2 linked regions of the Homo sapiens genome follow. The protein of the gene in region 2 purifies or fractionates together with the protein of the main gene of each other region. This does not show direct contact. Each region holds a gene or a part of one and is shown on either strand. Other genes may lie near its edges. The genes, in order: MIOS and SZT2.

Region 1 (3,827 bases), on a different chromosome or scaffold from region 2:
GAACTCCTGATCTTGAATGATCCACCTGACTTGGCCTCCCAAAGTGCTGGGATTACAGATGTGAGCCGCCATGCCCTGCCCCAGTATCCTTGTTTTGCTATACATAAATTTGAGTTATTAGATAACAGTCATCTTGAGTACGAAGTTCATATTTCCAAGCTGTTTCATTTATGTATTTAGTTATACTTTATGTATAAATAATTATAATTAATGTTGCTATTTAAAAAATGTTAATAGTAATGTGAAAAGTACTGAATTGGGAAGTCGGAAAATACAGGCCTGACTCCTTGCTCTGCCCCATTTACCATAGCCATTCAGTTAATTTTTTTGAGTATTACTTTCTCGAGATGTAAAATGGGACAGAATAATGTTTATAACTCTTTCCAGATCAAAATTTTGTAACATATGCAACTGAATCTAAGAGTTAAATCTAGTTATATGAAATATGTTCTCTCTTTAGGGCAAAACCATATTTTATCATAGAAAAAATATGCTAAGATATAGGTATCAACTGAAGTGATCTTACGGTTAAAAAAGTAAAATTTTCATAGGATGACTTCAGTGGAAATTGGATCTTTTTTCCACCCTTAAATTATTTTTACAAATTACAAAATTAATTGTACCTTCCTACATTTGTAGTAAATATATTTCAAAAGTGTTTCATGATATTGACGAGTTTACAAAAATTTTAGTTATTATAATGCCTCTGAAATCTTTGCCACAAACCACCTATATAACAACTTTAGCCACAAGAGTGTGTCTGTTTATGTTTTAAAACTTGTCACTTTGTACTTGGAAACGTATATTGGTATTCTTCTAAGTTGTGTACTGGTGTAGCCAATTCACAAATTTCTTAGACTTACTGATTAACTTAGTAGCCAAGGAAAGATTTCCTTAGTTCTCTAAAATTAATTTCTATGATGGAAAGATTATGTGGCATCTTAAATTTGATATACTGTGCATCATTGCTTATGTTTTATGTTATGTAAGACTGACCTGGATTTTTAAAAACTGAATTTGGCTAGTGTTTAAAAGGTAAATTTTTACTTTGCAAGGACAAAACCTTATTGCTGAATTTCCTAAGAGTTACATCAAGAAAGGCATCTCAGGCAATTAATGGCTCTGCAAGATAAATATAACTTATTAATAAATTTGGAAATAAACATATTCATTTTATTTATATAAAACATTCAGTCTCTGCAAAAATTTAAAACCAGTGCGCCTAGAAGTAACTCCTTGCTTTTTCTCTTCTTTCCAGTATGAAAACAAAGTTGCAGTACGTGACAGAGTGGCATTTGCTTGTAAATTCCTTAGTGATACTCAGGTGAAAACTGATTTAATTCCACATTTGAAGTAATTAATATGTACTGTCACAATTATGTAAGAAACTAGTCTTTATAATTACATATGTATGAGATTGATAAGCTAATTCTTCTAAAAAGTATGGTAAGAATTTATTAGATAAAAATATTTTGAAAATGTCTACCATAACTAAATTTATTTGTTTAGAATACTGACAATATTTTAGTATATTTCTTCTTTGGAGGGTAAGATTAGTTAGTAGGTAAAGATGTTAAACTCACCTCTTAGTGATGCTATGAAAGGGTTCCTCATTTTTACTACATTAAACAATGCTAAATGCCTATGCTGTGTATATAGTGAGGGGGAAATGCATGTAAACAACCAGTAATACTATATGCTAAGTACTATAATAATGAAAAATGCTGGGGAAAGATGGAGGAATCTTGGCAAGAGTTTGGGGTGGGTTGAAGTCAGGGAAGACCTAAAGGAAGTTATTCTTGATGATCTTAAAGTTCCCTTCCAACTCCAGATTTTGTGATTCTGTTACATACTACTATGATAGACAGCAAAAATTTCGCAGAATAATGAGGACAATTATCTTTAAAATAATAAACCATCTATAGTTCTTTTATGGATTAATTATCAACATAATAAATGCCTTTTTAAAATATTTTAAATGATTATGGATATTGCTTTGAAATTTGTAATAGATGCAGACTTCTTAGTTAAATATTTATATTTTAGTAAAGTCTTTTGTTTTAAAATGTTTTCCATTAGGAATGAAATTGTTCAAAATGTAGTTTTGAAGTACAAAATACATAGTGAAACAGATTGCTTTAGAAAAATCACTTTAAATTTTCCAGTTAAATAGATACATCGAAAAGTTGACCAATGAAATGAAAGAGGCTGGAAATTTGGAAGGAATTTTGCTTACAGGCCTTACTAAAGATGGAGTGGACTTAATGGAGAGTTATGTTGATAGAACTGGAGATGTTCAAACAGCAAGTTACTGTATGTTACAGGTCAGTGCAGTTTGACAGCAGCTTTTAAAAAAGTAACAATATTCTATATTTTCTTTCCTCAGTTGAAAGTAAATATGCACTTTTGCTTGCTTAGGATCTTTAGAAGGCATTTAGTTTTAACCTAATCAGTTGATCTACTGAAGACTTGTGCCTTATCTTACTGTCCCTAAGCCTCTTCATTGAGTTATCCAGTTTTTCCTTTCAGTCTGAGAAGGGCCAGTCTTGACTGCATCTGAATTTATGTAAAGCTCAAATTGAATAGAGAAACTCTCTTCAGTTTCTCCAATTGTTGACATAACTGCATCTTCTACAAGAAAGATTGGCTTTTCCTGATCTCAACTATAGTCTTACTTGAAGTGCTGAAGTCTAGTTATACCACAGCTCTCAGCTTTCATTTTCTCTTTTTATTATCATTGGGGGTATTTGGGGTAACCAATTTATCCATATTTTCTCAATTTTTACTGTCCAGTGATTAAAAACAGATTCCAGGCATAGATTGCTGTCTACTTTACTTTTGCTGGAAATAATGGTAAAATTTAGAGTATTCTCCTGAGATTTCCTGTAGCCCTCCAGTTGATCTTATCCTTACATGATGTTGGTACCCTCCTCTTTCCTGCCCTCATCCTCATATCACAATATGGTAGCATACTGTGTACTGGGTGAACACAGGAAAATGCCCCCTCTCCCACTGCACCTTCTTGTGCATATATAGAGACACTAGCCCACAGACCACAAAGTAAACTTACCTAATGTATCAAGCCACTGCCCATGGAAGAAAAAGTACCCTTCTATAACATTTTTTCTTGTTGAGATAAAATTATGTCTTTTAAATTAAAGTGTATGTATATGGCTGTAGATGGCTACAGAGTGCAAATGAGTTAGTAACTTCTTACCAAGATTTATAAAATATATTTAAAATGCAGACAATACAGATCTTGCTTTTTTAAAATCCAGTCTGATAATTGCTGCCTTTAATTGGAGTGTTTCCTTCATTTACATTTATATGGTCATGGTTAAGTCTACCATCTTGCTGTTTGTTTTCCGTTTTGTTTGTCCTTTTTCCTTTTGTTCCTATGTTCCTTTCCTACCTTATTTTGGGTTAATATTTCCATGTTTCATTTTATTGCCTCTATTGGCTTTTTAGCTATATCTCTTTTCATTATCTTTTTTAAAAGATGTTGCTGTAGATCTAACAATATGCATCCCTCAACTCATCAAAGTCAACATTTTACCCCCTCATACTTCACATTTCTCACCTGACACATCATGCTTTCTTTCTACTTTACCCTTTCTTATGTCACTCTGACACTTTCTGGGTTTTACTTCATGCTTCACAAATGTCACAACAGTGTGATTTCATTTACACATCCATTCCTTTGTCCTATTGTCATATATTTTACTTTTACAGATATTATATACTCCAACTTACAGTGTTTTTTTAACAGTCATTTGTCTTTTATGTAAATTATGAAAAGAAAACATGGGCTTTTATATTTATTCACT
Region 2 (3,827 bases):
GCATGGTGGTGAGCACCTGTAGTCCTAGCTACTTGGGAGATTGAGGTGGGAGGATCGCTTAAGTCTGGGAGGTTGAGGCTGCAATGAGCTATGATCACACCACTGCACTCCAGCCTGGGCAAAACAGCAAGATTCTGTCTCAAAAAATAAATAAAAATAATAATAAAATGAAATTACACCTTGGGAGATACTACTCTCTGTTACACTGCTTTCCAACACTGTGTTGAGACAGGTCCTGGCTAGGATTTTGGATTCATCCTTTGAGTGAGTTTAAGCTACTAAAGGAATTCCACAAGACAGTAACATTATATCTGCATTAAAAAAAATTCCCTCTGGTGGCCGGGCACCATGGCTCACGTCTGTAATCCCAGCACTTTGGGAGGCCAAGGCAGGCGGTTCACGAGGTCAGGAGATCGAGACCACCCTGGCTAACACAGCGAAACCCCGTCTCTACTAAAAATACAAAAAATTAGCTGGGTGTGGTGGCGGGTGCCTGTAGTCCCAGCTACTCAGGAGGCTGACGCAGGAGAATGGCGTGAACCCGGGAGGCGGAGCTTGCAGTGAGTCGAGATCACGCCACTGCACTCCAGCCTAGCGAGACTCCGTCTCAAAAAAAAAAAAAAAAAAAAAATTCCCTCTGGCTACTGTGTGATTTAGAAAGCACCCTCCCACCGCAGACTAACAACTAGGGGAGATGACAGTGGCTTAGACTAGAGCTACTCAAAGTAGCCATTCTGTGAACTGTGTGAGACTGGGTCTTGATGAGATAATGCCAGGATGCAAAACCACCACTATCTTTCACGGTGAAAGTCTTATTATGGAAAACAAAAAGTCAGCTGAACTAAACAGTGAACTTAGTTGTATTTCAAGGGATCTTTAGGATAGGACAGAAAAGAACTGGTGATTAATTATAAGTCAGGACATAGGAGGAAAGTAACAAAAAGGAAGGTATCAAGGATGATTAAAGTAGCATTGGAAACCAATACGCTGCAAAATGATTTTTTTCTTTTTTTTTTTTGAGACGGAGTCTCGCTCTGTCGCCTAGGCTGGAGTGTAGTGGCGCAATCTCGGCTCACTGCAACTTCCGCCTTCTCAGTTCAAGCGATTCTCCCACCTCAGCCTCCTGAGTAGCTGGGACTACAGGGGCATGCCACCATGCCTGGCTATTTTTTGTATTTTTAATAGAGATGGTGGTTCACCATATTGGCCAGGCTGGTCTCGAACTCCTGACCTTGTGATCTGCCCGCCTCCACCTCCCAAAGTGCTGGGATTACAGGCGTGAGCCACCGCACCCAACCTACTGCAAAATGATTTCTAAGTTAGCTACAAAAAGTAGATAGTTATTCCTGACTACCACACCCCATCGAAAAGTCCCATCAAATTGTACACTCTTATCGCCATGCTCCTAAAAACAGAAAAGGGGTCTATTTATTGGCAAAGAAGGAAATCACAGCAATTACTCACCCTTTCTTTCTCTGATCCTTGGTTTTAGGGTGGGATACTAAACCAGGCAACCTCTCCTTCAGGTTTGACTTAGCTAGTGTGGGTGGGATATTATGTGTTGACTATGCTGGATACTGCCAAAGTTCTTATCTAAAAAAGCATGTACAAGAGACTTACTGGAGTTTTAAAAAAGAATTTTTTTGTTAAGGGATGGTTTGGGGCTCAGAGCATTATCAGAATAGGAAGGCTATCCTAATTCAGCAGTCATTTGTTTATCACTCTGTCTCCAGAGCCCAGTGCAGTGCCTGGCACATAGGATGTTCAATAACATTTCTCTAAATAAGTGAATTCGCTATGGTTTTTTCTCCCCACCACCACCTCTTCCCCTCTCGCTATATGTTCTAAGCACGGCAAACTGGACATTTAAAACTAATCATAATTAGTACAACTTTTCTCAAGATGAGATCACCTTAACACTAGTGTCAACACTACTTTCCTTTTGTTCTTTGGTACTAAATACTTTTTGTTTTCAAATGCCAGCCTGTTTCAGCTATGCAAGGAAAAACCAAGGAAAAGCGTTTTGGCCCACGTAAGGCCAGGGTTAAAAGGGGAAGAGCACATGGTTGTGGGTCAGCACTATAAGGACAGAGTTGGGCACGTGGTCACCTCATCTTCTAGGACTAAAATCACGGCAAATCTAGGTTTAATAAATGAACCTTTCCATGACTGTCTGCACTAAGTTAGGGTCCTATGTTGGGCATTCACACAGCACTCTGTATTTTTTCTTCATGACACCTGCCAGAGTTTATAATTAAGAATTTGTAGGGGCCGGGCGTAGTGGCTCACACCTGTAATCCCAGCACTTTGGGAGGCCGGGGTGGGTGGATGACCTGAGGCCAGGAGCTCGAGACCAGCCTGGCCAATGTGGCGAAACCCCACCTCTACCAAAACATACAAAAATTAGCCGGGCATAGTGGAGCACATCTGTAGTCCCAGCTACTTAGGGGACCGAGGCAGGAGAATCGCTTGAACCCAGGAGGTGGAGGCTGCAGTGAGCCAAGATTGCACCACTGCACTCCAGCCTGGGCAACAGAGCAAGACTCCATCCATCTCTCCATCTCAAAAAAAAAAGAATTTGTATACTTTAATGTTTGTTTCCTGTATAAGTCTGAAGATCCAGCGAGGTGGAGGCCATGTCTACATATTGTTTCTTTTCTTTTTTTTTTTTTGAAATGGAGTCTCGCTCTGTCACCCAGGCTGGAGTGCAGCAGTGCCATCTTGGCTCACTGCAACCTCCGCCTCTTGGTTCAAGTGATTCTCTTGCCTCAGGCTCCTCAGTAGCTGGGACTATAAGCACGTGCCACCACACCCAGTTAATTTTTGTATTTTCAGTAGAGACAGGGTTTTGCCATGTTAGCCTGGTCTCGAACTTCTACCTCAGGTGATCCACTGGCCTCAGCCTCCCAAAGTGCTGGGATTACAGGTGTTAGCCACCACACCTGGCCTATACATTGTTTCTTGCTGTAACCCTAGAGCCTAGCACAGTGCCAAGACATACTAAGTGTTCTAATAATAACTGTTGAATACATGTATGAACAAGGAAAACTAATCTCACAAGCTGTATTTATTCTGTTTCCAGCTATTCTTAATTTGTTACCAATAATTTCTAATTTTTCACTCTTCTATCAACATGGTTTTTGTTGACGAAGAGTTCCTGTCCTTTATTCACTTCATCTTTCAATCATTTATGGACAAGGTAAGCTATTCTATTTTTGGAGTTTTTCCTTTGCTTCCACAAACATCGTTTTTACCACATTTTCACTAGTATCTTCTTCTTTATTGTTCCTGGAACCCTGGGGGAGTGCAAATGGGGGTTCTAACAGATTTGCTTTATGTTCCATTAGCTTTGTTTTAGAAAGAACAGTGTTACAGAAAGAAAGTGTTGTGATTTGACAGCTAAGACTCTGGGTGAGCTTCCTCCTGTGTAAAAATACCAGCTAGCCCAATGATGTGTGAAAGCACCTTGTAAAAAGTAACGTGTATAAATGCACAGATTAGTAATAACAAAGTGTTGCTGTTTACCTCTCTTCTTTGAGTCAGAAGTCCTGCACAGCCATTCACTTCAGTGTTGTTTCTTTGTTTTTTTTGCCCATACCTGTTTAGTTGGTAGAGTTGGGAATGTCCTCACATAGAGCCAGAATCTGTCTTTTTGATAATATCTTGACCTACTCTTAAAATCTGTTGTCTTGAAAATATCTAACCCACTTTTTGTTTTACCTTCTAAGGCCACACAGGGAGAATCTGACCCTCTGCCAAACGAGAGTCTATTAAACATGTGATGACAGCCCTGAGTCTTTACTTTTCTAAAACAAACATCTTTGGGT

What was found.
Region 1: the proteins of SZT2 (region 2) and MIOS purify together in Homo sapiens (affinity purification with western blotting; one study listed by BioGRID and IntAct). This does not show direct contact.

Annotation. Positions count from the first base shown.
Region 1 is NC_000007.14:7,587,240-7,591,066, forward strand, and holds part of MIOS (GATOR2 complex protein MIOS), read left to right. Parts: intron 1-1,258; coding exon 1,259-1,324; intron 1,325-2,165; coding exon 2,166-2,324; intron 2,325-3,827. UniProt on the Homo sapiens protein: As a component of the GATOR2 complex, functions as an activator of the amino acid-sensing branch of the mTORC1 signaling pathway. The GATOR2 complex indirectly activates mTORC1 through the inhibition of the GATOR1 subcomplex.
Region 2 is NC_000001.11:43,396,271-43,400,097, reverse strand, and holds part of SZT2 (KICSTOR complex protein SZT2), read right to left. Parts: intron 1-3,827.